2 separate regions of the Homo sapiens genome follow, and region 1 is linked to region 2. The links come from fine-mapping of genetic effects on gene expression. A gene starts in region 2. The other region holds a variant in brackets. All regions are shown on one strand. Distances are from middle to middle. Region 1 overlaps ANKRD55 (ankyrin repeat domain 55). Region 2 holds the start of ANKRD55 (ankyrin repeat domain 55).

Region 1 (16,356 bases), 76 kb before region 2:
GCACTCCAGCCTTGGCGACAAAGCGAGACTCCGTCTCAATAAATAAATAAATAAAAGAATGTTTTGATAGCTGTATTTTAATATTTTGATTTCTTTCGCAATCTTATATGTTTCATTTTCTGTAATTTCAGATATTTTTCCTTTTTGATATTTTTTTCCTTTTAAAAAGAAGTTTAAATAGAGATGAGGTTTAGCCATGTTGCCCAGGCTGATCCTGAACTCCTGAGCTCAAGCAATCCTCCTGCCTCGGCCTCCCAAAGGGCTGGGATTACAGGTGTGAGTCACTGCACCCAGCCTAATTTCAGGTATGTTTCTGAGAAGTTATCCATAGGTTTCACAAACACATGAAGATGTGTCCATGTCATAAATATGGGTAAGGACTCCTGCTCTAAAGTCTACAGGACATTTTTAAAAAATTCTAATTGGTATAAAATTTTATTTACTTATTTATATCTCATAAACACCTCTAATACCATGAAAATCTTAGTTTTTTGAGAGTAGGTTTTGGAAATAACAGTCACCTGGAGTCAAGTCTGGGAAATAAATTGGATAGCTGAGTCAACAAAACAAAAGAAGAAAGGGCCATAAAATAAAATAACATGACTTTTTCTTGAATTTAATTCTTTCTTTCTCCCTAGATATAACATATCTAGATATAATATATATCTAGGCTGGGCGTGGTGGCTCACGCCTATAATCCCAGCACTTTGGGAGGCCGAGGCAGGTGGATCACTTGAGGACAGGAGTTCGAGACCAGCCTGGCTAACCTGGTGAAACCCCATCTCCACAAAAAATACAAAAATTAACCGGGCATGGTGGCAGGCACCTGTAATCCCAGCTACTTAAGAGGCTGAGGCAGGAGAATCACTTGAACCCAAGAGGCGGAGGTTGCAGTGAGCCAAAATAGTGCCACTGCATTCTAGCCTGGGTGACACAGTGAGACCACATCTCGGAAAAAAAAAAATCTATATATATATATGTGTGTGTGTATATATATGTATATATACGTGTGTATATATACATATACATACACACGTATATGTGTGTATATACACATATATGTATATATGTATATATGTGTGTGTATATATATATAAAAAATTTTTGTGCCTCACTAAAGCTTTTGTGCAAGCTACTGAACTAGAAACTGGGGATACAAAGATAAAAAAAGGCATGGTCTGCCTCTAGAAGTTTATAGGGTTGGAGGAGAGTGGGAGAGGGAGGTGGGGGCTCCTAAGTAGTGGTGACCCTACTCCATTTTTTTTTTTTTAGATGTTCGGTCTTAGGCTAAAACTTCTGATTCATTAAAAACTTTTGTTTGTTATGTTACCTTTTGCTAACTGTAAAGTTAAAAATTTCAAGTCAGGGACTGTTTCTTCTGCTTTTGGTTCTATCTCAGGAATGTGGTAAGTAGAAGTGATGCTAAGAATTATGTCCAAAAGGTCACATCTGTTTTTGCAACTTAAATTTATTTTCTCAGAGTGGTTCTACAATTGAAGTTTTGTTTGTCAGACTGCTCACAAAAATCTGCTTACATAAGAATGTGCATTTAATATATCCTAAACAATATATATATCCTAAATGCTGTGCATAACAGTGCTTCTCTGGTTAAATGCATTCAAAGTTCTAACCCAGATGCCAACAGCTCAGAGCCTCTCTTGATAGAACACTCTTCCTGTCAAGGCTAAAATGAGAGCAGGAGAGGTTAGTTTCCATTTAACTCCCGGTAGCTGCAACAGACAAGCCTCACTCTATGTCAATGATTCTTCTGAGGTCCTGTTTTGAAGAACAAAAGCACAAAGGACAATCTGACCTATCTTGCTTTTTTCAGTGTTAACCGCAGTGTGGATAACTTCTAAATAAGTCAGTTTATAATTAAGCAGTGTGGTTAATGAAACAGGAAAAACAAACAGATCATTGGAACAGAACAAAGAGTTCAAAAATGAAACCATATATTAAAAAAAATCTGGTAACAAACAAAAACATAATTTAACATAACATAATCCAGTTCTTGGGGTAGAGAAGGCCTTCTTTAAAAAGACATCAAAAGAAAAAGCAGAAACAGACAAGAATGATCATTTTAATTATATCAGATTTTTACATTTCTGAATAAGAAAAGGTACTATGAACTATTTCAAAATAGCCAACAGCCTACGAAAAAGTATTTACAACCCAACAGCAAAGCATTAATATTCAGCATATAAACTAAACTCCTATAGATCAATAAGAAAATGACAACCCAATGGATCAATCGACAAAGAATGTAAACAGGCAAGTCACAAAAGAAGATATAATAAAGACCATTATGTCTATGAAATGATGTTCATCTCATTAATCAGGGAAAATGCAAATAACAAGAAAATCCAGCAACAACTGGGAAAAAACCAGTACTTCCACTAAAAACAACAACAACAACAACAACAACAACGACACGCAGCTATTTTGGGGGAATAATTAGGCAGTGTGTATTAAAAATAAAAACATACACTCTCTACTACCCAGCAATTATTCTTTTAAGAGAAATGCTTGCACAGAGTATGCAAAGAGGCTTGTACAAGAAACACTCTTTAGACTGGTGTTTATGATGGTGAAAAATTGAGACAACCTAAATATCCATTCATAGGGGAATGGCAAAATAAATGGGGGTATTTTGATATTATGTAACATGATGAAGCCATTAAAAGGAATGAGCCACAGGCTGGGTGCCGTGGCTCACGCCTGTAATCCCAGCACTTTGGGAGGCCGAGGCAGGTGGATCACGAGGTCAGGAGTTCGAGACCAGCCTGGCCAACATGGTGAAACCCTGTCTCTACTAATATACAAAAATTAGCTGGGCGTGGTGGTGGGTGCCTGTAATCCCAGCTACTCGGGAGGCTGAGGCAGGAGAATGGTGTGAACCCGGGAGGTGGAGGTTGCAGTGAGCCGAGATCGCACCATTGTACTCCGGCCTGGACAGGGCAAGACTCCATCTCGAAAAAAACAAAACAACAACAACAAAAAAGGAATGAGCCAGATCTATATGTATCAAAAATTCTAAGACAAATGCTTGAGTTGAAAAAACTAAGTTAGGCCGGGTGTGGTGGCTCACACCTGTAATCCCAGCACTTTGGGAGGCTGAGGCGGGTGGGTCACGAGGTCAGGAGATTGAGACCACCCTGGCTAACACAGTGAAACCCCGTCTCTACTAAAAATACAAAAAAAATTAGCTGGGCGTGGTGACGGGTGCCTGTAGTCCCAGCTACTTCGGAGGCTGAGGCAGAACCCAGGAGGTGGAGCTTGCAGTGAGCCAAGATCGCACCACTGCACTCCAGCCTGGGCAACAGAGTAAGACTCTGTCTCAAAAAAAAAAAAAAAAAAAAAAAAAGTTGCAGAACACATAGAGTGGTACCTTTTTTTAAACAATGAATTTAACTGTTACTCCCCGCTACCCCTCATACAATGGAGGCTACATCATGCTTGGAGCTTGTTGAAAAAAGACAGACGAGAGAAGATTACTTGTTCAAAACATTGAGCAGCCAAATACAGGAACTCCACCAAAGTAATGAATGAAAAAGAAAGCCTGGGCTGTGTTCTTTCCATTTCAGAATTGTATTTATTTCTCAATGGCAAGAGCTTTTGCTGTTATAAATTTATCGTGATTGGCTCTCACTAGCAATGACCAATAACTAAATAAAATAAATAATTGGCAAAAACGGAATTACAGCAGAAGATTTAGTTTTAAAGTTTTTTTTTTTTTTTTTTGAGACAGAGTCTTGCTCTGTTGCCTAGGCTGGAGTGCAGTCACGCCATCTCAGATCACTGCAACCTCCATCTCCCAAGTTCAAGCAATTCCACCGCCTGCCTCAGCCTCTGGAGTAGCTGGGGCTACAGGCATGAGCCACTACAGCCGGCTAATTTTCATATTTTTAGTAGAGACGGGGTTTGGCCATGTTGGCCAGGCTGGTCTTGAACTCCTGGCCTCAAGTGATTCACCCACCTCAGTCTCCCAAAGTGCTGGGATTACAGGCGTGAGCCGTGGAGCCGGGCCTCAAAGATCTTAACTGGCTTCATTTGCAATTCTAGAACTGGGCTTCATTCCAAAATGTTCTGGCCAGGCATGGTGGTGCACGCCTATAATCCCAGCACTTTGGGAGGCTGAGGCGGGAGGATCACTTGAATCCAGGAGTTCTAGACCAGTCTGGGCAACATAGGAAGACCCCTGTCTCTACCAAAAACAAAAAATGAGCTGGGTATGGTTGTGCATGCCTGTGGTGCAGGGTTTCTGTGGTCCCATCTACTCTGGAGGCTGAGGCAGTAGGCTGCAGTGGGCTGTGATCGTGTCACTGCACTCCAGTCTGAGTGACAGAGTGAGACTGTCTTAAAAAAAAAAAAAAAAGTTTTCCAACGAGCCCAGCAGAGGAGGTTGGTTTTGTAGACAGAGAAGGACTGAAAAAAGCAGAAGCAAAGAACAAAAAGCAGATTGGTTATTTCAAAGTTACTTTCCTTGAAAGATGAAAGATGAGAACAGGGAAACAGAACAACAGAGAAAAAACTGATTGCTTAACATCAGGTTACTTTAGGTTACTTTTTGTTGTCAGGATTAAAAGCAGAGGAAATTTCATTATTATGCTAAGTAAAACTAGCCTGTTTGGGAAATTTGGGTGTTATCTCTCTCCTGATTTCTCAGAAGGTCAGATAACAACTCGGTCTCAGTTTGGTAACTTGGAATTTAAGTATGAGGGACTCCATTTTGATATTTGGCCTGGTCTGTTGACCTAGTACAGGAGCTCAGTCAAAAACAAAATTATGAGTGCCTCAGAGTTATATGAGTGCCATCTCTACTAAAAATGGAAAAATTAGCCTGGCATGGTGGTGTCTGCCTGTAGTCCTAGCTACTCAGGAGGCTAGGTGAGAGGATCACCTGAGCCCAGGATGCGGAGGTTACAGTGCACTGACATCGCACCATACCACTGCACTGTAGCCTGGGCCACAGAATGAGACCCTGCCTCAAAAAAAAAAAAAAAACCAAAACCATGTATATATCTATATACAGATACATATATATACACATACACATACATATATGGATACATAATATATACATACACATATATATCCCTATGTTTTGTTTTAAATCTTCAGTGATTTAAAGCAAAACCTCAGGGGAAAAGAGGGTTGCACTGTTAGAAACTTCTGCTTTAAAAATGAGAACCAGAGATGAGGTAGCACACTCTGGTCACTCTGCCCATGGTGTGGAAGCAGGCAGCCGGAGTGGCGGAGTCCATGTGTATGAAAAACACAGGCAAGCATTAGCAGTTGGTTTCAGATGGATTCCAGACAGCAGGCTGTGAATGGACCAAAGAGGAAGCTGTGACCATGGGTAGGAAGTGCCTTGTTGAGGCCCTTGCTCTGCTGGGTCTGCTTTCTGGGCTTAAAACCCAACGGGTCCATATGCTGGTGTAATAGCAGGAGGAATCTTTTTGCAGAAGTCCCTTTGCATGAGGAGGAACCAGGGACTTTTCCAATATTTACCACATATTCTATGTAAGGTGTTACAATTACCACTCTTAGAAAGATCCATGTCTGCTTTCATTGTCTGCACCGCCAGGTGCCTCCTGGGGTGGAGAAAAATAGGGAACTATGTCTTTGCTGGGGGGTTGCTAGTTCTACTGAGGGGTGCTGGAGTTGTAGGTCTATAAGTGGAATTTAGCTTTAGGGTATAAATGAGCAAATTTGTCATCTTTCTAAATAAGACCTAGTTTAGGGATTACCCCAGAGGTTGGAGGTGGAGGAAGTAGTTGGCAACTTGCCCTGAAATCTAGAGGTTCACAATCTGCTGACATGGACTCCGCCACTCCAGCTCCCTGCTTCGACACCATGGGCAGAGTGACCAGAGTGTGCTACCTCATCTCTGGTTCTCATCTTTAAAGCAGAAGTTTCTAACAGTGCAACCCTCTTTCCTCTGAGGTTTTGCTTTAAACCACTGAAGATATGGGGAGTGAAAGCAGCAGGGGCTTTCTGATGTGGTCATTAATGCTAGTCAGAGGGAGGCCTTTAATCAGAAGGCTCAAGACAGATGGGTGGACCGGGCGCAGTGGTTCACACCTGTAATCTCAGCACTTTGGGAGGCCAGGGTGGCAGATCACCTGAACTCACTGTGGGGAAAAGAAAGAGAAATCAGACTGTTACTGTGTCTATGTAGAAAGAAGTAAACATAAGAGACTCCATTTTGTTCTGTACTAAGAAAAATTCTTCTGCCTTGAGATGCTGTTAATCTGTAACCCTACCCCCATCCCTGTGCTCGCAGAAACATGTGCTGTGTCGACTCAAGGTTTAATGGATTTAGGGCTATGCAGGATGTGCTTTGTTAAACAAATGCTTGAAGGCAGCATGCTTGTTAAAAGTCATCACCACTCCCTAATCTCAAGTACCCAGGGACACAAAACACTGTGGAAGGCCACAGGGACCTCTGCCTAGGAAAGCCAGGAATTGTCCAAGGTTTCTCCCCATGTGATAGTCTGAAATATGGCCTCATGGCAAGAGAAAGACCTGACCGTCCACCAGCCCGACACATGTAAAGGGTCTGTGCTGAGGAGGATTAGTAAAACAGGAAGGCCTCTTTGCAGTTGAGATAAGAGGAAGGCATCTGTCTCCTGCTCCTCCCTGGGCAATGGAATGTCTTGGTGTAAAACCCAGTTGTATATTCCATCTACTGAGATAGGAGAAAACCGCCTTAGGGCTGGAGATGAGACACGCTGGCGGCAATACTGCTCTTTAAGGCATTGAGATGTTTATGTATGTGCACATCAAAAGCACAGCACTTTTTTCTTAACCTTGTTTATGATACAGAGACATTTGTTCACATGTTTTCCTGCTGACCCTCTCCCCACTATTACCCTATTGTCCTGCCACATCCCCCTCTCTGAGATGGTAGAGATAATGATCAATAAATACTGAGGGAACTCAGAGACCGGAGCCGGCGCGCGTCCTCCTTATGCTGAGCGCCAGTCCCGTGGGCCCACTTTTCTTCTTCTATACTTTGTCTCTGTGTCTCTTTCTTTTCTCAAGTCTCTCGTTCCACCTGACGAGAAACGTTCACAGGTATGGAGGGGCAGGCCACCCCTTCACTCACAAGTTTGAGACCAGCCTGCTCAACATGGTGAAACCCCGTCTCTACTAAAAATACAAAAATTAGCCGAGCATAGTGGTGCACACCTGTAGTCCCAGCTACTTGGGAGGCTGAGGTAGGAGAATTTCTTGAATCTGGGAGGCGGAGGCTGTAGTGAGCTGAGATTGCACCACTGTACTCCAGCCTGGGCGACAGAGTAAGAATCTGTCTATTTAAAAAAAAAAGGCAGATGCGGGGGCATCTGCCCCAGAAGAAAGTGATTAGGAGGCTTACCCCCGCCCCCTTGCCTATGGTCACCTAGCTTCCTTGAAAATAATGTAATCGGCATCTTTGTGTATGTACATTTTTAATGTTATCAGACTTTCTTAGTGAAATGCAACCAAACCAAGCACATATTTACTTTAAAATTCCATTGAAAACCAGGTATTTAAATTGATTTTAAGAACCTTGTTAAGGAAATCAGCCTGGCTAAGGAAAATTAGTACTGCATTTTAAAAGAGTTAAGCAGATCTAACAAGACTCTAAGCTACTCTTGGACAGCTCTGCTTAGTGTCTGAGCCACCTTCCCTCAAGAACTTTGTTGAAGAGTGTTGAACGACCTTTTTGGAAGCCTTCTACTTGCAACATGAATTAAACAGCAGTTACGATCACTGGGATTAATAATGTGATGTCTGGAGCAGGTAACCCGGAATTATTAATATTATCTCTCTGTCATCTTTTTCTTTTCTTTTTGGAGGGGAGGGGGACAGGATGTCACTCTGTCACCCAGGCTAGGGTGCAGTGATGTGATCATATCTCACTGTAACCTTGAACTTCTGGGCTCAAGTGATCCTTCTGCCTCAGCCTCCAGAGTAGCTGGGACTATAGGCATGTGCCACCACACCCAGCTACTTTTTAAACTTTTTGTAGAAATGGAGTCTCGCTCTGCTGCCCAGGCTGGTCTCAAACTCCTGGGTTCAAGTGAGCCTCCCACCTTGGCCTCCCAGAGCACTGGGATTACAGGCATGAGCCAGTGTCCAGTCTTGTCATTGTTTTCCTTTTTCTTTCTTTTTTTTCTTCAGAGAGGGGGGTCTCACTTTGTTGCCAGGCTGGACTCTCAAACTTCTGGGCTCAAGTGATCCTCCCACCTCAGCCTCCTGAGTAGCTGTGACCACTGGCACGCGCCACTACACCCACCTCTCTGCCATCTTACACGAGAGAGCATGTCTTAGGCTGAGTGCAGTGGCTCATGCCTGTAATCCCAGCACTTTGGGAGGCCGAGGCAGGCAGATCACCTGAGGTCGCGAGTTTGAGACCAGCTTGACCAACACGGAGAAACCCCATCTCTACTAAAAGTACAAAATTAGCCGGGTGTGGTGGCGCCTGCTTGTAATCCCAGCTACTGGGGAGGTTGAGGCAGGAGAATCACTTGAATCTGGGAGGCGGGGGTTGCGGTGAGCCAAGACGGTGCCACTGCACTCCAGCCTGGGCAACAAGAGCGAAACTCCATCTTAAAAAAAAAAAAAGAGAGCACGTCTTGAGCCACCGCTTGCTACTAAGTTTCTGGGACTTGAGAAGACAGGAGAGAGCAATATTTATTTCTCAATGTCCAGAGGGAAGTTACAAAATTTCAGTCGTATGATAAATGCTGAAGTACTTAATGCAATAAAGTCCTTCCCTATCAGAAGCTACACACACCCATGGTGGGGATAAGTTTCTGCTGAGGATTAATAGTGAAAACAGGTCTCCCTTTCAGGGTAGGAACACAGAACCATGCCTCATGTCTCCCCGTAGCTTTTAAGAGGAAGCACAATGGTTCAGAAA[C/T]GCCCTTCCTTTCACCCTCACATGCAAAATGACCACTTGTTGCTTGAGAGTGTGGCTCACCTCATTGTCCTGGTGATTAATCTCGCTGATGTTCGACTGTTGCAACAGGACCGTGAGGAGCCTGTAAGGAAAAAATAGGAGAAATGGCTCAAAATAACAGGCAGTCACGGTGCTCTTGGAATCGGTATAAAAACATGACCTTAGAAAAACCGTCAGTTGAAAGACTCCAAATGAAGATGAGGGCCCTTTCCGTTTCTCTGGGAAAAAGATCCACAGAAAAGAAGCAAGAGTGTGATAGGTTAGAAGACACCTGTGTGGAGGGCTACTGTCTGCCTCTCCCACCCTCTCTTCATCTCAGCACTCCCGAGGGGCACAAGGGGATGGAGAAACTTTAGGCTCATTGTGTTCACCAGGCCTCTGTCTCCTAGCCATGCCCTTTAAGATCCAAAATCATGTAGCAATTATTATTATGATTTTTTTCTTTGAGATGGAGTCTCGCTCTGTTGCCCAGGCTCGAGTGCAGTGGCACGAACTTGGCTCACTGCAAGCTCCGCCTCCCGGATTAGCACCATCCTCCTGCCTCAGCCTCCCGAGTAGCTGGGACTACAGGCGCCCCGCACCACGCCCTGCTAATTTTTTCTATTTTTTAGTAGAGACGGGGTTTCACCGTGTTAGCCAGGATGGTCTGGATCTCCTGACCTCGTGGTCCGCCCGCCTAAGCCTCCCAAAGTGCTGGGATTACAAGTGTGAGCCACCGTGCCCGGCCACTTATTCTTTATTCTTTATACACACATGCCTAAGCACAAGATTCACTTTATAGAAACTTACAGAGTGCTTTCGACCTGCTTCACTCCTAGCTGCATATGTCATGCCTTTTTAATGCATAGATTATACCAGGAGGTTGTCAGTATTTGCAAGTTTGCTCATTCTTTGTAAAATACACACATGCCTAAGCACAAGATGACAGTAATCAGTGTAAAACAGCTATCAATGATTCTCAGATTCAGGCTCTTACCTGACTTGGATCTCCTGCTCAGTTGACTGAAGTCAACGCTCCATCTGGGAGAGGGGGGCAGCCGAGCATAGTGGAGAGGGGCCCGGGCTCTGCAGCCAGATGGCTTGGGTTTACATCCCAGCCCTGCCACTGATGAGCTCTGTGACCTCAGGCAAGTTACTTACCTTCTTCCTGCCTAAACTTCCTCATCTGTGAGATAGGAGTGATAAAAACTACCTATCACACAGCTCAGTGTGAGGATTAAATGAGTTAATATGCATACAACATATAGAGCATGCCTGGAACATGCTGTTATTTCTAGAGTGCTTAACCCCAGAAGTTTGGACCCTGGCTCCATCTCAGAATTGCCTGGAGAGATTTTTTTTTTTTTTAAACCACAAATACCTGGACTCTGTACTCAGGGTTTCTAACTCAGTAGGTCTGGAGAAGCCCAGCTTCTACTGTTTAAAAAAAGCTATTCAGGAAATTATGGTAAACAGCCAGGCTTGGAAACAATTGAGAAAGGTGCTGAAAGAATTAATCAATGGATACTCATCAAGATGATAAAGAATAGTGTATGGGCAGTCAATGGAGGAAATTCAGAAATTGCTTTTGGAAGAATTATTTGTAAAATGAAATTGTTTAGTCTCTTCTCCAATCAAATCTTTATCGTCTCTCAGATTGGAAGACATCTAAAGCCCTAAGTATTAAATTGTTACTTGCAATAGAAGAAAAGAAAGATCCACTAATCATATTGCCTTAGCAGTAAATGTAATACACAGAGAGCTTAAATAGAGATGGACTTCTGGTTATTTGCGGTGGAGGTGAAATAACCAGGAAGCCTGTGGTTTCAATCTTGTTGTATCATAGTCTTTTGGGGAGCCAGGATAATGCTGAGGTTTAATTCTGACCTCACTACTGCACGATCTGAGTTTCTGTATCTTCATGTATATCAGAGGGGTAGTAACGCAGTGGTGTAAAGGATTGAGTGATCCAACAGGCAGAAAGACCCTGGGTCACATACACTAAAGGGACAATGGCTATGACTGCATACAGTACATCTCTTTTATGCTCTCTGAATTCTAGATGTAGCCTTTGGTAGGAAGACATATAAAAATAATTGCATTTTGGGTCACACAATTTTTATCTTTGCAATTATTTCACCACTGGATATATTTCCCTGTGGCTGCTTTGTGAGTGGGGGCAGGGCTTACCTTGTGACTGTGCTTCTCCTTTCTTTCTTTCCTTTCTGTCTTCTCTGGCTCATTATTGGCCATTGTTTACTCTCTAGGGCCCATTTGGTCTGAGGGACTGGGGGAGGAGGGAAGGGCAAGGCAGGAGGTCAGCTGTGGTCCAGTGTGGTTATCCTTGGTTACTCCTGAGCAGACAGAGATTATCTGTAGCCAGACAGGATCTTCTGGGGCTCTAACCAGATTAGAATGGGGGTAGGGAGAGCAGGACCTCTTGTCATATCCTGGGTGGCCTCCCAAGGTTGTGGGATGAACCGTGTGCCTAGATAGTTCTCTATTTGGCTTTCAAAGCCATTCTCTTCTTTATACTGCCCTGCTCTGAGGCTGACTTCTAGGGACCGCATCAACCAGGCTCCCTTGCCCTTGGCTTCCTATCGGGTTTTGCCGATGGGGGAACTGGCAGGAGGAGGGAGAGAAGCCAGCTCCCTTTCTGGCAATAATTGTATTTCTCTACCAAAGGCCTCAGTTCTTGCCAGGTGGCCCCTCTCCTACAGCTAAGCTACCACTGCAGCTCTCAGAAGTTTCCAGTAACAGCCCCTTCCTTGCCCCTTTAGGTCTAGAAAGTGATAACATTTTCCTGCTCTTTTGGGGAAAGTGGGGGTGGGGTAGGGGGTTAGAACATCAACCATCATCTCTTGTTGGTCAATTTTTGGTCAATTTTTTTTTTTTTTGAGACAAGCTCTCACTCTGTCACCCAGGCTGGAGTGCAGTGGCACAATCACAGTTCACTGCAACCTGGACTTCCTGGGCTGAAGCGATTCATCCTCCTGCCTCAGTCTTCAGAGTAGTTTGCACTACAGGTGTGCACCATCACGCCCAACTAATTTTTTAGTGTTTTTAGTAGAGATGGGGTTTCACTATATTGCCCAGGCTGGTCTTGAACTCCTGAACTCAAACGATCCTCAGCCGCCCGAAGTGCTGGGATTACAGGCGTGAATCACCCTATCCAGCCTTGTTGGTCAAGTTTAAATAGTCTTTCCCTAGACTTTCTCCAGTTGCCACCCTTTAATTCCCATGTCTTCTCTGTCATGGCTGTGACTGATATGTGATGATCTATGTGGCCCAACTCCACTTGACTGTGAAGTCTCTGAGATCCATTGATCGTCAAAGCTGGACACAAATAGACAGATCAAGGCCCTCTCCTGCATTCTTGCCCTCACTCTGGCTCTGGCTGTCTCTCATATGTTGTGAGAACAAAGAACCTGAGGCCCTTCCTGGCTTGCCAAGACCACCATACAGTGGCTCAGTGATACAGCCTGAACCAGAAACCAGGTGTCTCATTGCCAGCCTGGGACTTCCTTGCTGTTCTGTGGTATGGAGGTGACCTGCGAGATACTTGTCCAGCATCTATGTCAATTCCTAGATGATTTGCAGCCCTCTGTTGTGCTTCCCCCGAGCTCTCATTTTGTGTTACCATGGCCCAGGAGTCATTCTACACCCCCATCAGCCAAGTTCAGACTCCCTCCTGTCCTCGGATCTCTGAGTAAGTGATGTAAGACCCATCTCATCTCAGGTGCCAGTACAGCAGGCTTGGACCCCAGCAAGAGCAGTCCCAGACAGGTGGTGTGTTGAGTCATAAGAGCACTGATGCTGGGGCCAGACTGCCACTGTTAGAATCCCTGCTCCATACCAACCAGCCAGTGACCTTGGGCGAGCTCCCAGTGCCTACATTTTCTTATCCATAAAATGCAGAGAATAATACCTACTTCCTCAGGATCTGTCATGACTTTGACTCCATGCACACAAAGCACTTGGAATAGCCCTTACATGCCATAATAAAGTTTTATATGGCCAGGTGCGCTGGCTCACGCCTGCCTGTAATCCCAGCACTTTGGGAGACCAAGGTGGGCAGATCACCTGAAGTCAAGAGTTTGAGACCAGCCTGGCTAACATGGTGAAACCCCGTCTGTAATAGAAATAGAAAAATTAGCCAGGCATGATGGTGGGCACCTGTAATTCCAGCTACTAGGGAGGCTGAGGTCGGAGAATTGCTTCAATCTGGGAGGTGGAGGTTGCAGTGAGCCGAGATTATGCCACTGCACTCTAGCCTGGGCAACAGAGCTTGAGACTCTGTCTCAAAACAAACAAAAAACAAACAAAAAATTCTATAAAATGATTAATTTTTTAATAGCTCCTACCTTCTATTTTCTGGGTCTCCACTGATTATCATTAGGTGAATGGTGGGTCTCAGAGAAGGATCAGCTAGAAGCATCCTGGGGACAACTCATCCCTATGAGCTTTCCTGTTTCGCTGGCCCCTCTGAATGTTCCCAGCCCTGGAGCTGGCCAGCGCAGTGACAGGTGGGAAAAAATGGTCCCACAACCAGCCGTCTCCCCTTCCTGTCCCTGGAGCTGCCTGTATTAGAGTGTGCTGCAGTGAGACAAACACTGCAGGTCAGAACACACCACCTGGTAACTAGAGAACAGGACCCCAAGGAAATGATTTTCTTCCTCCCTTGGGCTGCAGTCAAGAGTGATGAAAAGAGGCAGAGTGGCTGGCACTCTGACAGGGAGGAAAAAAAGTCTGCCAGTAGCCATGGAGACCATGAAAAAGACCTTCAGAGAGCCCCGTGGCTGCTTTCAGAGAAAATTGCTGCTTGCCTTCCAACACTAGCATGTGCAGCGTTGTACAAACACAACTCTGTTCTCTTTGGAGCTTTGTTTTAATGATCATGCCCCCTCTTTCACACCAGCGCCCTCTGAATGTCCCAGCCAAGGAAGCAAGAAAAGCCTTGGGGAGCTGAAAGGGGGAAAACTTGGACCTGCTGAGAAGCAGAGGGTTCAAAGTAGGAAGGGGAATCATGAGAGGAAACCTGTGCATCTTTGCTTTTGTAAACCCAGTGTGCCTTCACGTTCATGATTATAAATCACTTATCCCTGCATCAGCCTCCATCCCCATTGAGCGGGTGTTTAGTTAAGGATGCAGATTCATACTGTTTGGTTTGTTCAGGAGTTGTTTCCATCTGAGCACTAAAATCCCTCTGGAGGCAAAGGACTAATTGAAGCGTCCCTTAGCTTGTTTATAAGCAGCTTCGGTTTGAGGCTTCTCTCTGAATAACCTCCAGTGAGCACCAAATAGAAGGAGCTTGCTGTTTGGAAATCTAAGTGTTAGCAGATTTTAAATCAGTATAAAAACCTGAGCACAAGGGCACTATGTGGCCTGTACATACTGTTTATGATTAGGGGAAAATGCAGACATATGCCAGTTTACAAAGGTGTGCATAGATCCACACAAACAACACACCCCAACAACCATTGCAGTAAACCTGTGTGCCCGGCAGTAGGATGTAGGACTGCATTTACATGGGCCTGTGTCTGTGCACACATTTTTGTGGACCTGAGTGTGCTGAGGTGAAGAAGGCCAGGATGAGCACCAGTGGGGTGGCAGTAGTAGTGTTTCATTCCTTAGCTTCTTATAATGTTTATGGTGTTTCTTTCTATCTTCCATCATCATCATCATTGATGACCATCAACATTATCATATCATCACGCCATCATCATCACCATGTTCACTTTCTGAACACGGACAATGTACTAGGTGCTGAGTTCAGCGTTTCCACACATTTTCTCCTTTACTTCTGCCTACTTCCCTGTGAAGTAAGCAGGAATAATATATTTAATAGTACTTACTTCGCCAGGTGTGGTGGCTCACTCTTGTAATCCCAGCACTTTGGGAGGCTGAGGTGGGCGGATCACCTGAGGTTGGGAGTTCGAGACCAGCCTGACCAACATGGAGAAACCCCATCTCTACTAAAAATACAAAATTTTCCGGGCATGGTGGTGCGTGTCTGTAATCCCAGCTACTCGGGAGGCTGAGGCAGGAGAATTGCTTGAACCCAGGAGGCGCAGTTTGTGGTAAGCCAAGATTACGCCTTTACGCTCCAGCCTGGGCAACAAGAGTGAAACTCTGTCTCAAAAAAAAAAATAGTACTTATTTCAAGGGGAAGCTGAGCCTTGACATGTTAACTTGCCCAAGAGAATAAGAGCTGGAGCCAGATTTAAACTCAGTCAGTCTGACTCATACTCATGAGCTGGCACTCCTGGCCACCCTTCAGGGATCTTTCTTTTCTTTTTCTTTCTTTCTTTCTTTCTTTCTTTCTTTCTTTCTTTCTTTCTTTCTTTCTTTCTTTCTTTCTTTCTTCTTTCCTTCCTTCCTTCCTTCCTTCCTTCCTTCCTTCCTTCCTTCTCTCTCTCTCTCTCTCTTTCTTTCTTTCTTTCTCTCTATCTTTCTCTCTTTCTTTCCTTCCTTCCTTCCTTCCTTCCTTCGGGTCTTGTGCTGTCGCCCAGGTTGGATTACAGTGGCACGATCATAGCTCACCGCAGCCTCGAACTCCTGGGCTCAAGCAATCTTCCAGTCTCAGCCTCCTGAATAGGTAGGACTACAGGAGCACACCACTATGCCTGGCTACTTTTTTAAAAAAATCATTTTTAGAAATGAGGCCTCATTATGTTGCCTAAGCTGGTCTTGAACTCCTGGCCTCAAGTTATCCTCCTGCCTCTGTCTCCCAAAGCACTAGGATTACAGGTGTGAGCCACAATGCCTGGCCCCTTCAGGGATTTTAGATTGTTTTCAGACAAATATGGTGAAATAAGATAACGAGTGAAGAAACAAGACAAAGAGAAAACACGGGCAGGAAAAAAAAAGACATGATCTATAGTCCTACATGTATGCCAGAGGTGGGACACAAATTGAGTTTTGAATTTTCTAAATATATAAAGAAAGAAACATGCTCTGAAGTCACAGTGTCTGTATAGTAAAATTAAAAAAAATGATTTATCAGGAGCAGCATAGCAATTCCTTCTTCAGTAGAAATATTTCTTGTGGTTTCTCATATAGAATTTTTCGGAGGTGCTAATGAATCATGAGCCAGGAAGTTTTGTAAGACTGTTTCTTATAAGGCTTCTCAACGGAGACCAAGGGCTTAATGTCAAAATATGGCCATTAAAATAAATTCGGTTTCTACTTTAAACATTTAATGCAGATGTATCAAACTCTGCCATGGACCTAAAATTTCTCAAACAACTATAAAATATGTAATTTTAACAATGTAATTCCATAGGGAATCCTTTAGGGTGGACTAGTTTCCAATATTCTGTAGGTAACCAAACTACAGTCATGCATCATTTAATGATGGGAATACTTTCTGAGAAATGTGTCGTTTGGCGATTTCATCATTGTGTGGACATCATAGAGTGTATTAC
Region 2 (16,356 bases):
TGTTGGTGGGACTGTAAACTAGTTCAACCATTGTGGAAGACAGTGTGGTGATTTGTCAAGGATCTAGAACTAGAAATACCATTTGACCCAGCCATCCCATTACTGGGTATATACCCAAAGGATTATAAATCATGCTGATATAAAGACACATGCACATGTATGTTTATTGCAGCACTATTCACAATAGCAAAGACTTGGAACCAACCCAAATGTCCATCGATGATAGACTGGATTAAGAAAATGTGGCATGTATACACCATGGAATACTATGCAGCCATAAAAAAGGATGAGTTCATGTCCTTTGTAAGGACATGGATGAAGCTGGAAGCCATCATTCTGAGCAAACTATCGCAAGGACAGAAAACCAAACACCACATGTTCTCACTCATAGGTGAGAACTGAACATTGAGAACACTTGGACACAGGGTGGGGAACACCACACACCCGGGCCTGTTGTGGGGTAGGGGGAGGGGGGAGGGATAGCATTAGGAGATATACCTAATGTAAATGACGAGTTAATGGGTGCAGCATACCAATATGGCACATGTATACATATGTAACAAACCTACACACTGTGCATATGTACCCTAGAACTTAAAGTATAAAAGAAAACAAAAAACAAACAAAAAAACCCCTGCACATCTGTGCGTGGGAACTTTAAAAATCCACAACACAATGGAATAAGAGCTTGATTGTGAAAATAAATGTTTCATTAATTTGATTTTCCATTGATGTCTTTTTTTTTTTTTATTAAACCTTATTGCTGGCCAAGGAAAAGACATTCTGCAGTAGAAAGAACACCGGTTTTGAAGTGAAACAGATTTAGCTTGGAATCCTAGCTTTGCTGTTTTACTTTGTGACAACATTGGGTAGGTCATAACCTTTTTGAATTTCCTCATCGATAAAAGGGGGTCATATGTGAAGCTGATATGAGGATTATATGAGCTAGTCTGTGTGCAGTCCTTAGGACAGAGCCTGGATCTGCTAAATGCTCCATAAACATTCGCTCTTGTCAATATGTATCCATGTAAAGCCCTGCACAGAGTCTGCACCAAACAGATGCTCCCCGCTTCCCCCACCTCTTACTTGCCAATTTTTCTCCTAGCTTAAATGAGAATGGATTTTACCAAAAACCGAGTCACAGTGTTGCGTGCTTTCTGGGATCTGACCTCTTCTCACTCCCTGCAATGGGTTGAATGGTGGCCCTAAAGACATGTTCTAACCTCTAATCCTGGAACCTGTGGCTATTCCCTTACATGGCAAGAGAGTGACTATGACCTTATATCTGAAAGGATGTGACTAAGCCAAGGACTTTGAGAGGAGGAGTTTATCCTGGATTATCTGGGTGGTCCCTAAATGCAATCACATGCATCCTTAAAGGAGAGGCAGAGGAACTTTGAAACAGGTACACAGAGGAGCGATGCACACAGACGAGGCCAAGTGAAGATGGTGGCAGAGACCAGAGTGATGAGGCCACAGCAGCCAAGGCTGGAAGGACCAGGGAAGATTCTTTCCTAAAGGTTCTAGGAGAAGGCCCCCAGCTGACTTTTTTTTTTTTTTTTGAGGTGGAGTCTTACTCTGTCACCCAGGCTGGAGTGCAGTGGCGCGATCTTGGCTCACTGCAACCTCCGCCTCCTGAGTTCAAGCAATTCTTGTGCCTCAGCCTCCCAAGTAGCTGGGACTACAGGCGCATGACACCACATCCAGCTAATTTTTTATTTTTACTAGAGACAGGGTTTCACCATGTTGGCCAGGCTGGTCTCAAACTGTTGATCCTAGGTGATCTGCCCACCTTGGCTTCCCAAGCTGCTGGGATTACAGGCATGAGCCACTGCACCCGGCCTGCTGCTGACATCTTGATTTCAGACTTTTGGGCACCAGAACTGTGAGAGGATAAATTTCTGTTGTTTTAAGCTACCCAGCTTGTGATAATTGGTTACAGCAGCACAGAGACAATCACACACTCTATTAATCTGGGCTAGAAGACAAAGCCCTTCCTCTCTTTTTCCAGCAACTCGACAAGAGAAACGACCTGTGCAAGAGGGTGGACCACAGCCCACACAGGTGTGTGCAAACACACCGCTCAGCCTCGTCAGGCATATTTCCTCAGAGACCCTGGCACGGCCAGGCCCTCCTCACCCCCAACAATACAGAAGAGTGGGTGAGGCCCTGAGGCTACCCATCCCCCCACCTCCCGCCGACCCCTCGCCTGTTTTTTTTTTTTTTTTTCCCTGTTTTCTCTCTCAGGTTTGGGATTCTTTCAGGCGCAGCAAAACTTTTCTTTCCACAAGTCGTGACAAAGCTTACAATGCAAGTATCTTCAGTTACATAATATGTAGACTTTAGCAGGAACCTCTGTGTTCTGTAGTAAATGGCTTTACTACAGGTCGCTTCCTGCGTGTGTGGGCTTTGAGAGGGAACACAGCTGGAAAGAACACGTGGGACCAGAAGAGATGTTGCTATGGTGAAAGCTGAAGGCACAAAAGAGAGTCGAGAGTTCTGAAGACCCAGGCTTCCTCCCTCACAGTTTTGCAAAGCCAGCCAGAGACCATGCCCCTGGCCAGTCAAATGATCTGATCGTTGGGCCTTCCAGCAGCTCTGTGAATATGTAATATAGTATTATCCACATTTACAGTCAAGGAGACAGAAGCCAGTGGAGATCAACTAGTTTGTGCAAGTTCATGTAACTAGGAAGAGGGCAGAGACAGGACTTGAGCAAATGACCATCTGTCACCAAGACCCTGGCATGCCTCGTTGCCTCTAGCTAAAGAGAAATATAGGAAAATGCATGTGGAGGGGTTCAGTCTTACCAAACCCACCTCGTTGGAGCCCTGAAGGTCCTTCTGCATCATATTCTTCCACCATTCTCTGGGCAGCCATGAGCCAGAGTCAGTGCTAGGCCAGGGATTGGCCATGTGCAGGAAGCTTCCTATTGCCCTGTTGTATGGATGGAGAACACCTGGGCCTCAGTCCCCTCTGTTGCTATTTAGTGGGGTGTTGTTATTATTATTAGGAAGGACCCAACTTTGAACCTCTCTGTGCTTTAGTTCCCTCATCTGAAATGTGGAAGAGGGGTAGGTTGGATGACTGGTTCTGCATCTTTGCTGTCCATGAGAACTTCCCAAGGAGTGTTGGTTGGGCCAACCACTGCAGTTAAACTGGAATCTCCCTGGGTGGGATGCAAGCATCAGCATTTTCAGAATTTCTTCAGATGATTCTTTTTTCTTTTTTTTGAGACAGAGTCTTGCTCTGTCGCCAGGTTGGAGTGCAGTGGCCTGATCTCAGCTCACCGCAACCTCCACCTCCCAGGTTCAAGCGATTTCCTGCCTCAGCCTCCCGAGTAGCTGGGACTACAGGCGTGTGTCACCATGCCCAGCTAATTTTTGTATTTTCAGTAGAGACAGGCTTTCACCCTGTTGGCCAGGATGGTCTCGATCTCTTGACCTTGGGATCTGCCCACCTCGGCCTCCCAAAGCACTGGGATTACAGGCGTGAGCCTTGCGCCCGGCCCAGATGATTCTTAAGTACAGCCAATGTGAGAACCAACAGGTTACTTGATTGCTAAGATTCTTCCAGCTGCAATGTCTTCTGTCCCCATCTGCATGTAAAGACAGTACTGCTAGGGTTCACTTATCCAGACAGTAACGATTCATGAAAAACCCTCAACTAAAGCCCCATGTTCAACTTTTCCCGAGAAAGTCACCTCCCTTTGGTTTGTCCAACAATATAGTATTTAAAATCTGTATAATGGTCTCAACCCTCATGGTCTTTCATGCTTTTAAGAAAGAGGAAGGATTAATGGGTAATAAAACTATTCAGGAATGGCTTAGTTAATTATTATTCTAGGTCTTGCTATAAATGGTATCCTAGGGTTCTGAAAAAAATAATTAATGTAATTTAGTCATCCAGCACTAAGCCCTCATTTGATCTGAGGACTGCTACATTCAGGCTGAAGGTAGAGAGATGAGTAGTCTTTTGCACTTCAGAAACTCCCAGTCCAAGGTGATAATAACAACAGCAATAATAATAACAGCTGCAGCCAAAATGGGAAAATACTTATTGAATATCAGGCATTGCTAACAGGTGCTTTTTATATGTTATTATTTTAGATCCTCACAACAACCCTGCTAGGTAAGCATCATTTCCTTCATTGTATTCCTGGGGAAACTAAGGCCCAGAGAGGTTAGGTAACTTGCCAAGGTCACACAGCTAAGAAGTAGATGATCTGCCATTCTGATCTACGTCTATAAGATTTAAAATCCCATGCTCTTTCCATCATATGATAAAACCTCTAGAAAGAGAGAAAGGATTGAGAAATAGAGATAAAGATGGCAGGGAGAGGGTTAACTTCCATGGGAGAGAATCCGGCCCAGGTGGAGGAATTGCTGTGAATTGCTCACATGAAAGGTGTTAAAAGAAAATCAGTCTTGTAATTCTGTATCTTAACTATGTTTGGGGCTCAATCCTGTTAGAAGGTACAGCACTGGAACATGTAAATTCATTATGAAGAGCTAGTTCTTCTTCAGTCAGTCCCAGCTCCCTCCAATTAGTCTTCAAAAATAAACCCATTGTATGTTTCGTGGCTTAGCAACATCATTTTTCAGCCAGTGTGAGCTCTTTGGTTCTTAGCAGATTTTCACTTTTACTGACTGCCATCAGTGATATAAAATGTACCAGGAGGAGAGGATGGTGGTGGGCACAGCTGTGACAACGCCTTTCTCTATGCTGTTCAGATCCAAACACGGTATGAGCCGGCACGTTCTGAAGGCGCGCACACACACACACACACACACACACACACACACACACACACACATACACATACACAAACACTATTCCAAATGAGCTAAGACCTGGAGAACACACTATACACATATATACATTAGCTAACTCAGGAATCTAAATATAAATTTATTTTTGGAGAAACCCCCTGGGCTAAAATAATTCACCCACAAAGCCAGATGTAGCTTGAGGGGTAATAAACATGCTATGGCCTAGAGCAGGAAAAGGGAAAAAAGAATGAAGCAGTACATTTTCTTAATGAGGCTTTTTCAAACCACCATTTCATGTTGTAGCCAAAACAGATAAAATCACCAAAGGAACTTAGGATCTTGAAGAATATTCAGAGACTGTAGAAAGTGGTTTAAATAATAGATATTTAAGAAAAGATTCTAAAAAATATTTATTATGTTTATAAAATGGAAATTTCATGTTTATACTAAAAAAAGATTTACTATTACACATAAGTATTACACGAAGATGTATATAAACACATTGCATATGCAAAATGTATACACATAGACCACATGGCCAAATATGTGATATTATAAGGATAAGTTGATCTCACAGCAACATTTTGATGTGGAAAATTACCTCCACTCCAGAAATTATAAGTAAGGAAGATATACCCTGGCATTGCAAATAATAGCATAGGGATATGTCATTACACAACCTTGGATGAGATAACATATCAACCCGACATAAATACAGGCAACATCTATTCCTGAAAGGAATAAAAAAATGCTTACGAAGATACAGCAATGAGATACTGGGCTAATCGAATGACAAAAAAAATGTGATGTGTTCTTACATTGCTTACCCTAATTTTTAAAAAAGATTTGGAAAAAACAGAATAAAGATGACACTATCTGAAATAGTTGGTGTGCTTGAAATCCAGTTTTTAAAATTTGAAGGTAGGAATACTTCAACAAGATCATAAGCTTATACAACAGATCATAAGCTTATTTTTCTGTTTCAGATGCTTATCAAACTAGAAGTGAACATTTTGAACAGGTTTGTTTTCTAGGTGAAATCCTCTTTCCACATCCTACATAGCAAATACTCATGCACACCCACGCACATGAACACACACACACACACACACACACTTCTCTTTCTCTCCTTACAACTGTAAATCCATACCATGAGACTAAGGATGCTAACAACCAAAGAATGTGTTAAAGCAGCATTTTACCTCTTTGCTGATCAAACACAGAAGGGGTGCTGAAATCCATGGTAGCCTGTCTCATCATTTACCATCAGAATGGCAAAAAGCATCCAGGTCTCTAGAGAGGAGAAAACACCATCTCAAACCTTACTGTCAACATGACAGTCAGAGGCAGCATCGTTTGCCAAGACCTCTGTTTCAGGATTAAATGTGCATCAGAGCTGCAGGTTGTTGTCAAGGCAAGGTGATGAAAATAGGTAAATGCTATTCCTGTAAATACCTGCTAGGAAAAGAGTTACTCTATGGCCTCATTCATCAGCTGTACATGGGCATAATACACCCTCCACCCCCAAATCAATAAACACAATTACTCAAACTCCAAAAAGATAGTAAAATTGTATGGGCCACCTGCCTTGGATCTGGGCTGGAAAAACACAGCAGATCACGGAGCTTCAGCAGCTGGAATGTCGCTTTACACCAACAGAAATCTGAATGGGTGAGTGAGGATTCACAGGGCCAGACAGAGCATGTGCAAAGCTGCCAATGCAGTTCGCATTCGGCTGTGCTTTTGGCGGAGTGAGAACTGCATTTGGGTCATGTGAGCAGAGAGTGCCATCTCAATGGAATAGGATGTAAATATTGTAGCAGGAGGCTGCTGGCCATGTGCTGTGTGGAGTAATTATCCATGTTGGCAGTCTTCTTCACTCCCCTTTCAGCTCCGTTCTCCAATTGACAGGGAGGATGGGGAAAGGCGTCATTTGAAAGGTGACATTTCAAGGCTCGAGTGTCTGTGGTGATAAAATTAAAACAGTCTGCTGTCACAAGGGTGTTTATTGTAGCATTACATGTAGTAAAACCTGAAAAATCACCCGAATGTACCTCATTCAGGGAGCAGCTAAGTAAATGGTAGTAAATTCGTACTCTAGATTTAAAAATCTGACATAAATAAATCTGTGTATTTATCTGGTGACATGTCACTAATCTATTGTTAAATGAAATAAACAAGTTATATATTTCATTTGTTCGTGTTTTAATAAAACCGGAAACCACTCACTGTATACATTATTTTTATATATTCAGACGAACACTGAAAAAGATGTAGAAAGATACGTACTAAACTGCTAATATTGGTTCCCTCAGGCCACTGTGATTAGAGTAGGAGATTTCTAACTTGTTCTGTATCAATCTCTGTATTTTTGGCTTGTTAATAACCAGTATCTATTATCTTGTATTTGTAATAAAAATATGATATACTAAATTCAAACAAAGTTCTATATTCTAGGCACAACCAGATTTTTGGATAAGTCAAATAGCCATATAGTAGATGCTTGTTGAATCTAATAATAAACACCAGCTTCCTTTGCCCTTGGATAGGATGATTCTGAGGCATGGTGTTTTACTCCGTTTGCCATTTCCCTTTCAGGATTAAACTCCTTCAGGGTTAAACTCCACTGCCACCTGTGAGAATAGGTCTAATAACGTTCTTTTTATGGGCTGCTGTTCCCTCCCTGTATTACTTTCCCACGTTCCTACTGATATTTCCTGCACTTCTCAATAAGTTACTTGCATTGGAATCATTGTCTCAGGGTCTGCTTTTACGGAAACCCAAATTAAAATATTTCTCCACAAGAGGGTACATTTCATAAGGGCAGGGTCTTTGTCTACTCTTTCTTTGTCTGCTTTGTCCACTCCATGTCCTTACAGCCTAGCACAGAGAGGGGCACAAAGGAGGTGCTCAGTACATTTCAGTGCATGAGTGAAACTTCACTGAAGAACTTTCCTTGCTCAAGCTGACAACCTGCTCACTGACATTGTAACATTGGAACCCAATTAACCATCCTTCATGGGGTAAGAACTTTCTGACAAGAACTTCTGTAGTCCTTGAAATTTTCTAGTCTAAACAAGAAACCATGTACTTGAGGATTGGTTCTAGGGTTTCTGGAATTGGCTCTCAAATCTGATTAAATTTAAGGATTCTAATAGCTTTATTTCTAGGAGTAAAGAGAGCATTGATAGTCCATGGTGTGAAGTGGTAATAGAGATATGCAAAAAGCTGCACTGAATATTCCTAATTAATCACTGGACACAACAGGCAAGGAGTTGGGTGACTGTGTAGATGATACCCTCAAACATTTTTGGAAACTTAATGAATATGGCTGGTTGCTCCTAATGTCACTGGACAAAGTGATGAAAGAAAAGGATTAGCTCACGGATTCTAATTCCCAGCTCAGGTGCCATATAGATGACCTGGAGGTGTGTATGTGTACCCTGAAGGAGAGTCTTACCTCCTGTAGCCATGAGGCTGAGGATGCTGCAATCAAATGCAGGCTCTCATGCTGCAGCTGCCTGAATTACAATGCAAATTGAACTCCTGAATTACAGCGCAAGTCAAACTCCCAGCTTCACAGGATGTCTGCTGTTAAAGTGAGGACATTGATTGGGAAAGTAGAGGATACTGTAAATTGGATAGAGACATGTGAGAAGACCCTGATGAAGCTGGGGGACACTGAGCATCTAAACTCTGAGGAGTCTTCTTTGCCAGTGGAAGTGGACTCCCAATCCCTAGTAGAAGCAGCCTCCCCATCTCCAGTGGTAGCAGCCTTTTCACCTCAGTCTGAGAAGATTGACTCTGAATTGCCTGAGGAAACTGTATTGGCCTTCCTTGAGGCAGCTGCCGTGCACAACAATGCTGATTCTCTTCAGGAGCCACCACCATTGTTCCTCTGCTTCTAGACCTATAACTAGACTCAAGTCCCAGCAGCCCCTAAAGGTGAGGTGCAAAGTGTGACCCATGAAGTACATTATATTCCAAAATAATTACTTGAACTTCCTAAAAATCCAGGAAACATGGGAATGGATACTAAGGGAGTGAAATAATGGTGAAAGGAACATAAAGTTAGATCAGGTTGAATTTATTGATATTAACTAATTAAGCAGAAATTCTGCATTTACTGTTGCAGCTCAGGCAGTTATAAAGTGTTCTAACAGTCAGGTTAGTGGGTTGAAACATGGACCAAAAAGTGGCCCAGGGTGAGCAAATTGGAAATACTGGACTTGCCTTGGTTTAATGTGGAAGAGATTCAAAGGCTTAGGGAGATTGGAATGTCAGAGTGGATTTGTCATTTAAGAACTACTCACCCACACTGGAGGGTCTAGAAGACATACTTTTAGCAGTACCGTGAGGAATAGGAATAAATCTGTGAGGGGAACCCCAGCATCTTTGAAGAGTTCTGTGATTGCTCTTCTCTGCAGACAGTGAGAACTGCAGTCATTGAATTGGGAAACCTAAATGCAGTGGGAATAATTGGATCCTAGGATGGTAGGGCTAAGTGGTGGTACTCAACTGCCAAAGACAAGGTGGGCATAGTTACTGTTGTGGAAAAAAAATAGAATCATGGCACCCCAAATTCACTATGCCACAGGGAAATTTAAGCTTGAGAACTGAGTCATGCAAAAAGCTGTCTTCTTTCGTTCCCAAACAGATAGCTGTATTTTCACATGCTGACTTTATCATATGTAGAGTTACTGGGCATGAGAGAAATGTGTAATTGCTTTTTCCCCTATTCCCTCTTTTTTTTTTTTTTTTTTTTTTTTTTTTGAGACGGAGTCTTGCTCTGTTGCCCAGGCTGGAGTGCAGTGGTGTGATCTCGGCTCACTGCAATCTCTGCTTCCCAGGTTCAAGCAATTCTCCTGCCTCAGCCTCCCGAGTAACTGGGATTACAGGCCCCCACCACCACACCCGGCTAATTTTTGTATTTTTAGTAGAGACAGGGTTTCACCGTATTGGCCAGGCTGGTCTCAAACTCCTGACCTCAGGTGATCTGCCCACCTCAGCCTCCCAAAGTGCTGGGATTATAGGCATGAGCCACCACGCCCGGCCAACTCTATTCCCTCTTTCCACATGTAATATGTAGACTCACTGAGTGCTAATCAGAGCCTCACAAAAAGGTGACCACTTGTTTCATTGCCTATCCTCTCTCCTTTATTTCCCTCCTCTTCTGCTTGCTCTGTCCTCTTTAAATACTGAAGTTCCTAAAACTCTCTTTGGAAAAAGCCCAGGTCACAGATCCCACTGTGACCTGTGTTTCTTTTTCCTGGTTGCATCCTCAACCTTGGCAAAATAAACCTGCAGTCAATTAAGATCTACCTCAGTCACTCTTTGGTTTATGCTGTAATGGACAGCAGAGGTCCAAGCAGCAATCAGAGTTGTCTGAGTCATAGAAACCTATGGCATTGGCTAGTTGATCATGGCGTTTCTCAAAGTAAAATAGATAGGAAGCCTATGAAATTCTTAATCTGCATAAGCAGAAAAGCTCTAGGTTAAGTGACAAAAGTCTAACACGAATCATAAAAACAGAGAATCATGATCCCTCAATTAATTCCCAGAATTGAGCCTGTTTACAAACCTAAAACCCCTTAAATGAAGGGGAGGCTGGAGCCCTTGAGGAAAGGCCCTGGTACCCTACTAAATGTTTATACTGTTAATCTTTCTCTCAGTTTTCCCCAAAAGAGATGTATGGCCTTTTTACTAGGGTAACTGTGCATTGAGAAAAGAGAAATAATCAGACCTCTCAGGGCTTACTGGACATTGGCTCTGAGCTGACACTAATTTCAGGAGACTCAAAATATCACTGTGGCCTGCCAGTCAGAGGAGGGACTTTTGAAGGTCATGCGGTCAATGGGATTTCAGCTCAGATCCATCTCACAGTGGGTCTAATGGGCCCCAATGCCATCCTGTGGTCATTTCCCCAGTTCTGGATGCACAATTAGAATAGACATACTTAGCAGCTCACAGAATCTCTACATTGGTTCCCTGAATCGTGGAGTAAGGGCTATTATGGTGGGAAAGGCCAAGTGGAAGCCACTAGAACTGTGTCTACCTAGGAAAATACTAAACCAAAAGCAATACGACATTTCTGGGGGAACTGTAGAGGTCATAAAGGACCTGAAGGATGCAGGGGTGGTGATTCCCACCACATCTCCATTCAACTCTCCAATATGCTTTCCAATTTGGCAGAAGACAGGTGGATCTTCGAGAATAACAGTGGATTATAGTAAGCTTAACCAGGTGGCAACTCCAATTGCAGCTGTTGTTCAGATATGGTTTTATTCCTTGAGCAAATTAAAACACTCTCTGGTACATAGTATGCAGTTACTGCTCTGGCAAATGCTTTTTCCTCTCAATACCTATTAGTAAAGACCACCAGAAACAGTTTATTTCAGGTGACAAGACAACATTCTTGATGAACATAAATCCAAAAATCCTCAACAAAATACTAGCAAACTGAATCTAGTAGCACATTAAAAAGTTAATCCACCATAATCAAGTGGGTTTTATCCCTAGCATGCAAGGTTGATTCAACATATGCCAATCAATAAATATGATTCATCACATACACAGACCTAAAAACAAAAGCCGCATGATCATCTTACTAGATCAGAAAAGAATTTCAATAATATTCAACATCCCTTCATGTTTAAAACCCTAAACAAACTAGGCATTGAAGGAATATATCTCAAAATAATAAGAGCCATCTATGACAAACTCACAGCCAAAAACATACTGAATGGGCAACCCAGTATAGGCAGGACTGTACTGAATTCTGGAAGCATTCCCTCTGAGAATTGGAACAAGACAAAGATTCCTACTCTCACCACTCCTATTCAACATAGTACTGGAAGTCCTAGACTGAGCAATCAGGCAAGAGAAAGAAATAAAAGGCATCCAAACAGGAAAAGAGGAAGTCAAACTATCTATGTTTGCAGATGATATGATTTTATACCTAGAAAACCTCATATTCTCTCTGCCCCAAAGCTCCTACATCTGGTAAACAACTTCAGCAAAGTTTCAGGATACAAGATCAATGTACAAAAATTAGTAGCATTTCTATATACCAACAACATCCAAGCTGAGTGCCAAAACAAGAACGCAATCCCATTCACAACAGCCATACACATACACACACACATACATATACACACACACAGACACACACATACGCAATACCTAGGAATACAGCTAACCAGGGAGGTGAAAGAGCTCTATAATGAGAATTATCTTTCAAACAGATTCTTTTATTATTCTTTTCTGAAAGAAATCAGAGATGATACAAACAAATGAAAAAACATTCCATGCTTGTGGATAAGAAGGAATCAATATTGTTAAAATGGCCATACTGCCCAAACCAATTTACAGATTGAATGGTATGCCTATCAACTTATCAATGACATTTTTCACAGAATTAGAGAAAAATTAGAAAAATTTTTAGAATTAGAAAAAAACGATTCTAAAATTTATATGAAACCAAAAGAGCCTGAATAGCCAAAGCAATCCTAAGCAAAAACAACAAAGCTGAAGGCGTCACATTACCCAACTTCAAACTATACTACAAGGTTACAGTAACCAAAACAGCATGGTACTGGTACCAAAACAGACACATAGACCAATGGAACAGAATAGAGAGCCCACAAATAATGCTGCACACCTACAACCATCTGATCTTCAACAAAGTTGACAAAAACAAGGAATGGAGAAAGGACTCCCTGTTCAATAAATGGTGGTGGGATAACTGGCTAGCAATGTGCAGAAGATTGGAACTGGACCCCTTCCTTACACCATGTACAAAAATCAACTCAAGATGGATTAAAGACTTAAAAGTAAAACTTAAAACTATAAAAAATCCTGGAAGATAACCTAGGAAATAACATTCTGGACATAGGCCCTGACAAATATGCCTATGCCTATGTTGTCTTTCATGACAAAGACACCAAAGCAATTGACAAATGGTACCTAATTAAATGAAAGAGCTCCTGCATAGCAAAAGAAACTATCAACAGAGTAAACAGACGACCTACAGAATGGGAGAAAATGTTTGCAAATTATGCATCTGACAAAGGTCTAATATCCAGAATCTAAAAGCAACTTAAACAAATTTATAAACAAGAAAAAATCCCATTAAAAAATGGGCAAAGGACATGAACAGACACATTTTTTTTTTTTCCAAGACAAGGTCTCACTTTGTCACCCAGGCTAGAGCACAATGGTGCAATCTAAACTTACTATAGCCTCCACCTCCCAGGTTCAAGCAATCCTTCTGCCTCAGCCCCAAAAGTAGCTGGGACTCCGGGTGCATGCCATCATGTCTGGCTAACTTTTTTGTACTGTTTTGTAGAGATGAGGTTTCACCATATTGGCCAGGCCGGTCTTGAACTTCTGAGCTCAAGCAATCTGCCCACCTCAGCCTCCCAAAGTGCTAGGATTACAGGAGTGAGACACTGTGCTCGGACATGAATAGACACTTTTAAAGAGACATACCCGTAACCAATAAGCATATGAAAAAATGCTCAACATCACTAATCGTTAGAGAAATGCAAATCAAAAACCACAATTAGACCCATCTCCCATCAGTCAGAGTGGCTATTACTAAAAAGTCAAAAAGTAACAGATGCTGGAGAGGTTGTGGAGAAAAGAGAACACTTATATACTATTGGTGGGAATGTAAATTAATGCAGCCACTGTGGAAAGTAGTTTGGAGATTTCTCAAATAAATTAAAACAGAACTACTATTTGATGCATCCATCAAGTGGAAAGTTTCCTTAATTTCAATTTTTCAGTCAGATTTGTGTAAGCTGATCCAATTGAGATGTCTATGTTATTGGTTATTGTTTCTGCTGTTAATCGTCATTTCTCTTCAATTAAGGTATAAACAAGTTGAATTTTTTCCTTGCAAATTGAAATGGATGATCTACTGTTTCAGGCTTCATTTCCAAAGTGATCTCGTCCTTTCTTAAAATGAGTTATTCATTGATAAACGACTGATTTCTTTGGGAGCGTTGAGCTCATAAACTTTTCATAAAAGATCAACGATTTCACCATTCTTCCACTCAAACTTCCCCATAAATATAATATTTGTTCTTGTTTCAATTTTAGCAGGATTGAGCTCATAAACTTTTCATAAAGGATCAATGATTTCACCATTCTTCACTCAAGCTTGACTATAAATTTAACATTTGTTTTTGTTTTTAGCAGAATTCATGTTGCTCTGATAGAGGCTCTTTTCAAACTGAAATCTTAAGCTTCTTAGTGCTTTCAACTAGATCTTGTTCAGACATGTTAGTATGAGTCTATTTCAGATATGTTAGTATGAGTTTATTTTGGTGTAAAAAACTTGAAATTCATACATAGTTTTTTCATAAAACATATTTTCTATGAACTATTTGAAGACCCCTCATACGTAGATGTACAAATAACATACTGATATGGTTAGGCTTTGTGTACCCACCCAAATCTCACCTTGAATTGTAATCCTCATAATCCCTACAGGTCAAGGGAGAGACCAGGTGGAGGTAATTGGATAATGGAGGTGGCTTCCCCCATGCTGTTCTTGTGATAGAGAGTGAGTTCTCACGAGATCGGATGGTTTTATAAGGGGCTCTTCCTCCTTTGATCAGCACTTCTCCTTCCTGCCACCTTGTGAAGAAGGTGCCTTGCTTCCCCTTTGCCTTCTACCTTGATTGTAAGTTTTCTGAGGCCACCCCAGCTGTGCTGAACTGCGAGTCAATTAAACTCCTTTCCTTTATAAATTACCCAGTCTCAGGCAGTTTTTTACAGCAGTGTGAAAATGGACTAATACAATAAATTGGTACTGCAGAGAGTGGAGAGCTGCTATAAAGATACCAAAAAATGTGGAAGTGACTTTGGAACTGGATAATAGGTGGAGGTTGGAACAGTTTGAAGGGCTCAGAAGAAGACAGGAAAACGTGGGAAAGTTTGGAACTTCCTAGAGACTTGTTGAATAGCTTTGACCAAAATGCTGATAGTGATATGGGCAATGAAGTCCAGGCTGAGGTATCTTAGGTGGAGATGAGGAACTTGTTGGGAACTGGAATAAAGGTGACTCTTGCTATGCTTTAGCAAAGAGACTAATGGCATTTTGCCCTTGACCTAGAGATCTCTGGAACTTTAAACTTGAGAGAGATGATTTAGGGTATCTGGTGGAAGAAATGTTTTGGCAGCAAAGCATTCAAGAGATTATGTGGGTGCTTTTAAAAGCATTCAGTTTTATGCATTCAAAAAGAGATGGTTTGGATTGGAACTTATGTTTAAAAGGGAAGCAGAGCATACAAGTTAGGAAAATTTGCAGCCTGATGATGCACTAGAAAAGAAAAACCCATTTTCCAGCCAGATGTGGTGGCTCATGGTTGTAATCCTAGAGCTTTGAAAGACCGAGGCAGATGGATCACTTGAAGTCTGGAGTTCGAGACCAGCATAACCAACATGGTGAAACCCTGTCTCTACTAAAAATACAAAAATTAGCCAGGTGTGGTGGTACATGCCTGTAATGCCAGCTATTTGGGAGGCTGAGGCAGGAGAATCACTTGAACCCTGAAGGCAGAGGTTGCAGTGAGCTGAGATCATGCCACTGCACTACAGCCTGGGGGACAGAGTGAGAGTCTGTCTCAAAAACAAAAAACAAAAAACAAAACAAAACAAAACAAAAAAAAAAAGAAAAAGAAAAACCCAAATTTGCAGAAGTAATGAGGAACCAAATGTTAATTGCTAAGACAATGGGGAAAATGTCTTCAGGGCATGTCAGAGGTCTTCACAGCAGCCCCTCCTATCACAGGCCTGGAGATCTAGGAGGAAAAAATGGTTTTTGGGGCCAGGACAGGGCCTTGCTGCTTTGTGCAGTCTCAGGGCTTTGTGCCCTGTGTCCTAGCCATGGCTAAAAGGAGCCAATGTACAGCTCAGGCTATTGCTTCAGAGGGTGCAAGCCTTGGCAGCTTCCAAGTGGCGTTGCACCTGCAGGTGCACAGAAGTCAAGGATTGAGGTTTGGGAACCTCCACCTAGATTTCAAAGAATGTATGGAAATATCTGGATGCCTAGGCAGAAGTTGCGTGCAGAGACAGAGCTCTCATGGAGAACCTCTGCTAGGGCAATGAAGAAGGGAAATGTAGGGTCAGAGCTCCCACACAGAGTCCCCACTGGGGCACTGCCTAGTGGAGCTGAGAGAAGATGGCCACCATCCTCCAGACCCCAGAATGATAGATTCACTGCCAGCTTGCACCACGTGCCTGGAAAAGCCACAAACACTCAATGCCAGTCCATGAAAGCAGGCAGGAGGGGGACTGTAACCTGTAAAGCCACAGGGGTAGAGCTGCCCATGGCCATGGGAGCCCACCTCTTGCATCAGCATGACCTGGATGTGAGACATGGAGTCAAAGATCATTTTGGAAATTTAAGGTTTAATTACTGCCCTGCTGGATTTCAGACTTGCACGGGGCCTGTAATCCCTTTGTTTTGGCCAATTTCTCCTATTTGGAATGGGTGTGTTTACCCAATGCCTGAACCCCCATTTTATCTAAAAAGGGACTTGCCTTGTCTCAGATAAGACTTTGGACTTGGACT

Evidence for each region.
Region 1: its variant is fine-mapped to the expression of ANKRD55 in whole blood (TOPMed, PIP above 0.99).

What each region holds. Positions count from the first base shown.
Region 1 is chr5:56,150,862-56,167,217 of GRCh38, forward strand. ANKRD55 (ankyrin repeat domain 55) reads right to left here. Exons shown (of 12, transcript NM_024669.3): 6 at 8,972-9,032. Among named protein-coding and RNA genes, the nearest start is that of ANKRD55, 74 kb to the right of the region's middle. RefSeq lists a silencer at 5,857-6,026 and enhancers at 6,017-6,812, 9,203-9,998. The variant C/T (reference allele first, on the strand shown) is at 8,912.
Region 2 is chr5:56,226,882-56,243,237 of GRCh38, forward strand. It overlaps ANKRD55 (ankyrin repeat domain 55), which reads right to left and starts at 6,449. Exons shown (of 12, transcript NM_024669.3): 1 at 6,360-6,449; 2 at 5,975-6,065. The coding sequence starts at 6,032. RefSeq lists an enhancer at 13,275-14,474.